2 linked regions of the Homo sapiens genome follow. The protein of the gene in region 1 purifies or fractionates together with the protein of each later gene. This does not show direct contact. Each region holds a gene or a part of one and is shown in the gene's direction. Other genes may lie near its edges.

What was found.
Region 2: the proteins of PAX2 (region 1) and NFIA purify together in Homo sapiens (co-immunoprecipitation; one large-scale study listed by IntAct). This does not show direct contact.

Annotation. Positions count from the first base shown.
Region 1 is NC_000010.11:100,828,013-100,830,444, forward strand, and holds the end of PAX2 (paired box protein Pax-2), read left to right. Parts: 3' UTR 1-1,932; downstream 1,933-2,432. UniProt on the Homo sapiens protein: Transcription factor that may have a role in kidney cell differentiation. Has a critical role in the development of the urogenital tract, the eyes, and the CNS.
Region 2 is NC_000001.11:61,382,887-61,386,560, forward strand, and holds part of NFIA (nuclear factor 1 A-type), read left to right. Parts: intron 1-350; coding exon 351-479; intron 480-3,674.

The DNA of each region.
Region 1 (2,432 bases):
CACACAATCAGCGCGGACCGCAGCGCGGCCCAGCCCCGGGCACCCGCCTCGGACGCTCGGGCGCCAGGAGGCTTCGCTGGAGGGGCTGGGCCAAGGAGATTAAGAAGAAAACGACTTTCTGCAGGAGGAAGAGCCCGCTGCCGAATCCCTGGGAAAAATTCTTTTCCCCCAGTGCCAGCCGGACTGCCCTCGCCTTCCGGGTGTGCCCTGTCCCAGAAGATGGAATGGGGGTGTGGGGGTCCGGCTCTAGGAACGGGCTTTGGGGGCGTCAGGTCTTTCCAAGGTTGGGACCCAAGGATCGGGGGGCCCAGCAGCCCGCACCGATCGAGCCGGACTCTCGGCTCTTCACTGCTCCTCCTGGCCTGCCTAGTTCCCCAGGGCCCGGCACCTCCTGCTGCGAGACCCGGCTCTCAGCCCTGCCTTGCCCCTACCTCAGCGTCTCTTCCACCTGCTGGCCTCCCAGTTTCCCCTCCTGCCAGTCCTTCGCCTGTCCCTTGACGCCCTGCATCCTCCTCCCTGACTCGCAGCCCCATCGGACGCTCTCCCGGGACCGCCGCAGGACCAGTTTCCATAGACTGCGGACTGGGGTCTTCCTCCAGCAGTTACTTGATGCCCCCTCCCCCGACACAGACTCTCAATCTGCCGGTGGTAAGAACCGGTTCTGAGCTGGCGTCTGAGCTGCTGCGGGGTGGAAGTGGGGGGCTGCCCACTCCACTCCTCCCATCCCCTCCCAGCCTCCTCCTCCGGCAGGAACTGAACAGAACCACAAAAAGTCTACATTTATTTAATATGATGGTCTTTGCAAAAAGGAACAAAACAACACAAAAGCCCACCAGGCTGCTGCTTTGTGGAAAGACGGTGTGTGTCGTGTGAAGGCGAAACCCGGTGTACATAACCCCTCCCCCTCCGCCCCGCCCCGCCCGGCCCCGTAGAGTCCCTGTCGCCCGCCGGCCCTGCCTGTAGATACGCCCCGCTGTCTGTGCTGTGAGAGTCGCCGCTCGCTGGGGGGGAAGGGGGGGACACAGCTACACGCCCATTAAAGCACAGCACGTCCTGGGGGAGGGGGGCATTTTTTATGTTACAAAAAAAAATTACGAAAGAAAAGAAATCTCTATGCAAAATGACGAACATGGTCCTGTGGACTCCTCTGGCCTGTTTTGTTGGCTCTTTCTCTGTAATTCCGTGTTTTCGCTTTTTCCTCCCTGCCCCTCTCTCCCTCTGCCCCTCTCTCCTCTCCGCTTCTCTCCCCCTCTGTCTCTGTCTCTCTCCGTCTCTGTCGCTCTTGTCTGTCTGTCTCTGCTCTTTCCTCGGCCTCTCTCCCCAGACCTGGCCCGGCCGCCCTGTCTCCGCAGGCTAGATCCGAGGTGGCAGCTCCAGCCCCCGGGCTCGCCCCCTCGCGGGCGTGCCCCGCGCGCCCCGGGCGGCCGAAGGCCGGGCCGCCCCGTCCCGCCCCGTAGTTGCTCTTTCGGTAGTGGCGATGCGCCCTGCATGTCTCCTCACCCGTGGATCGTGACGACTCGAAATAACAGAAACAAAGTCAATAAAGTGAAAATAAATAAAAATCCTTGAACAAATCCGAAAAGGCTTGGAGTCCTCGCCCAGATCTCTCTCCCCTGCGAGCCCTTTTTATTTGAGAAGGAAAAAGAGAAAAGAGAATCGTTTAAGGGAACCCGGCGCCCAGCCAGGCTCCAGTGGCCCGAACGGGGCGGCGAGGGCGGCGAGGGCGCCGAGGTCCGGCCCATCCCAGTCCTGTGGGGCTGGCCGGGCAGAGACCCCGGACCCAGGCCCAGGCCTAACCTGCTAAATGTCCCCGGACGGTTCTGGTCTCCTCGGCCACTTTCAGTGCGTCGGTTCGTTTTGATTCTTTTTCTTTTGTGCACATAAGAAATAAATAATAATAATAAATAAAGAATAAAATTTTGTATGTCACTCCCCATGGCTCCAAGTTTGTCTCTCCCTGTCTCTGAGATGGGCCTCCCCTCCATTGGTCGATCCCCAAAAGCCCCTTCAATGATCCTCCCAACTACACTCCCGCTGCCACCTCCAACTCCTTTGCCGAGACCCCCTTGGCGGCAGCTGAACCACGGCGAAGGCCGAGACTAGCCTGCCCTTTAGTAGCCACCCTCCCCCACGCACCCCGGCCCTGGGGACAGGAAGTTCTTACTCTCCGAAACTTCAGAATAACTCCTAGTTAGGCGCCTATACTAGGCCAACTCTGTGGTCCTACCAGTACACCCGCACCCAGATTTAGGGTGCTGGCTCTCAGAACCCGAAGTCTGAGGCCTTCTCCACGTGGGTGGAGGGGTGGTCGTCTGTCCTATCTCCTCCCTCCGTTCCCTATCCAGTGCAGTTGCGCGTGGGCGCAGCAGCAATTTTATCCCCGAAGTCTGCAATGAAACGCGAAGACCGCAGACGCTTGCCGCAAGTTTCCT
Region 2 (3,674 bases), on another chromosome or scaffold:
AGCATACATGGTTTCCTTTTTGGGAGTCACAGAGGTCACAGACACAAGCAGCAACTTTTAGGAAACACTGGAAAAGTTGAACCCTGTATTATTATTGAAGACCAATAACCCAAAAATGGACTGTGATTAATTAGAATAAATTGAAATCAAATACAGACCGACTTATCAGGGGACTATTCTGTCACCTCTTTGTTTCTGTGACAAATGCAAAGCAATTCACAACATCTTTTTCATTCACAGGTGGATTTCTCTTTTTGTTTGTTTTTAATTCTTTAAATGTTATCTTTTAGGTTGCACAAATCATTGTTCCATGAATTAAAGTGTACTTACCAGTTGATCCTTCTTGCCAGGAATGCCATCTCCAACCACACTGAAGAAGTCGGAGAAGTCTGGTTTCAGCAGCCCCTCCCCTTCACAGACCTCCTCCCTGGGAACGGCGTTCACACAGCATCACCGACCTGTCATTACAGGACCCAGAGGTGAGCTGCTCCACAGGCACCCTTGGTTGTGCTTATATCATGGCCTTTGGACCCAAGTAGCAAAATGAGAAACAATGAGGACTCCCCCTGAACACTCGTGAGGCAGTGAGTGTTCCAATTTCTTACCCTTGGGGGCAGCCTTGGAATTTTAGAGACCAAAGAGATTTGGCATCACATTTTTTGTCCTTTCCTAAGGCAAAAAGAGACCAAATCTGTTTTTTGTTGGCCAGTGAGATTTTTGCAGAAAGATGGGAAGTAACTTGAATTGAACCAAAATCAAATCTGTTCTACAAGTTGTGTGTGTGTGTGTGTGAGAGAGAGAGACAGAATGTGTGTGTGTGTGCGCACATGCGCGTGCACACATGCATGCATTGGGTGAGTATATTTCCATGTGGTCAATTACCTGTTTTCAAGTAGTAGCTTTTTCTCATCCCTGCTGACTCTCTTTCCATAAAACCTGATTTCAATATGTGGCATTTTGTGTTGAGGTTGTTTGCATCAGGGTGTTGACGAGCAGTCTTCATTCACTCCTTTTGAAGTGGTAGATAGTTTGTCTGGTTTTCATTGCAATGTTTTCATTATTTTTGTCTCATATGCTTTTAAGTTTATTATTAAAATGTGTCCACGAGAAATATGATTTGTATTTCGCATTAAAGACAAGCCTTAAGCCTCAAGAGAATGTCAGCAAATCACTTAACTTGATCTTATTGCAAGATAAAAATATTTATTATTTTGTTTATGAAACTCCCACAGTAGAAGTATGAATAATTGTAGCCATGTTTGCTTTCCTTTATCAGATTTTCTTTTAGGTAGGTCTGTGACCTACCAGCTGGTTTCATAAAACATCCTAGAAAATTATGATCTCTTGTCTGCTTTGACATATACCTGGGGAAACTGATGTTTCTTGCATTAATCTCAATGTTAGCCCCACCAATCTGAATCCCTTTATGAATGTGCTCTGTGTGCATCTCAGGGAAATGTGGCAGGTAAGAGGGCTGTCCGGTGCACACATGGGAGTCATATTGAAGAAAGTAAGCATTTTGACCACTGTGGGAATGAAACTTACTTGTTTCATCTTTAAACATCTTGTGATCATTGGTAGAACTTTCTCAAGATCCCTTCTTTCATTTGTGTATTATGTGTGGTATAATCAGAGAGGCTTACTATCGATATATAATTTGAAAACCTGCATCAGAATTAGATTATAAGGTCCCAGAATGAGGCTTATTAAATAGTATTAAGATATTATCCTCATAGTTAACACTCATTGAGCATATAAACTGTAGTGGGGGATCAGAGATATGAAGCCCTTTTAGTCAGAATATTTATGGCCTGAAGGAGATGAGGCATGTGTTGTTTTTCATCTGTTTGGGGTCAAGTTAACATATTCTAAATGCTAACTGAATGGTAAAAGTTCCTGCAGGAGCTCAGTATTGGGGGGACCGTGGAGGTTCATTCACTCTTTAAACAAGGATTTACTGAGTGCCTCTATAGACACTGGGACCAGTGGTTCCTGTCCTCATAGAGCATGTTATCTACTGCAGAAGAGAGGCACACAAGGAAATAAGCAAGTAAAAGATGATGGGCCGGGCACAGTGGCTCACGCCTGTAATCCTAGCACTTTCTGAGGCCAAGGCGGGCAGATCACTTGAGCTCAGGAATTCAAGATCAGCCTGGCCAACATGGTGAAACCCCATCTCTACTAAAAATACAAAAAAAAATTAGCCAGGTGTGGTGGCACATGCCTGTAAATCCCAGCTACCTGTGAGGCTGAGGCAGGAGAATCACTTGAACCCAGGAGGCAGAGGCTGCAGTGAGCCAAGATGGTGCCACTGCACTCCAGCCTGGGCAACAGAGCAAGACTCCATCTCAAAAAAAAAAGAGACTTCAAAGTATAAATAACATTGAAGTCAAATCTTAAAAGATGCTTAGATAAATGGAGGGCCATCCTAAGCAAAGGAAAGATTTGTGGTGTAGTAAGTTAGTAAGAACTGAGAAGAACAGTATGCCAGCAATCAGGAGAGCTGGGTAGGCTCCCTCTTTTCCTTCCCACTCACCTTCTGGGTTTTTTAATGTCCTCATCAATATAGTGGGTACAATACTAATAATGACCATTTCCTCCCAATCTTGTATTCTTATACAGAAACAACAATAAAACAGTATTTGTGGAGATTCCATGAAGAGCATAATGCAATCTGTATATATTATCATTAGTCAGTAAATATTAAGAGTGTCTAATGTGTGTCTTGCCTTAAAACTGTAGTTCTAGAAATTACTGTCATGGGCACTTCCCTATGGGTACAGGTTGAGAGCTTGTTCATGCTAGATGACTAAGCACATTTTCTAAAATGACCCACGCTGGGTTGAACCAGAGTGGACCTCCTTAGCTCACAGCATAACAAGTTGCAATCTATTCATATTCATTCATAAAACTGTGTTTGAGGAAAAGAGAAAGATGCCTAGTGTAAGAATTATGGAATACCAAAGATTCTTTGTTTTCACCAGAATTCAAGATGGCTCCCAGCATCCTCGGCTCTCCTTTCTGGAAAGTCTACTCAGGTACCCGTTCTTACCGTGTCCCACCCCGCTTAGTGGTCTGGTGAAGGGAATTGGAGTAGTTGAGATGAAACTTCAGTTGCCTCTTTGTGGTAAGAATCATAAGAATTGAGATAGGCTAACGTAAGACATTTTTCTGGCTAAGACATTTTTAAAAGGTTGGAATTCAGCCTCATTATTTATTTGCTGTGGGTACTGTAATTTCCTTCATTTCTCTCTGAACTAGTTGGAAAGCTAATGCTTGGAATGATACCACATTTGGGAGTAAGACGTGGTGTTTTAGGAAGATGAGGCCAAAATTGAGGAGGAAGAGTATAGCTGCAAGAGTCAGTGTGGAATCGATGTCACATGTGCGCATAAAGGAGATTTCAACCTCTGACACTCCTTGTATTGGGCAAAGTTGCCACAACCCAAAATAGTAAATTATTAGATAATCCAGAGAATCAAACTTTAAAAGGATCTTGAAGAAAAGAAAAGAATGTCCTTTATCAGGTCCCCAGGGCATGGGGCAGGGATCACGGAGGCCATTGACTGCTCTCTGGTTAGCACTAGGTTGTGAGGCTTCTGCTGCCTTCCCTAGCATTTATCACGGGAATGCTTCAACTAGACTAGCACCAGTTAGTAAGCAATAACTGTCCA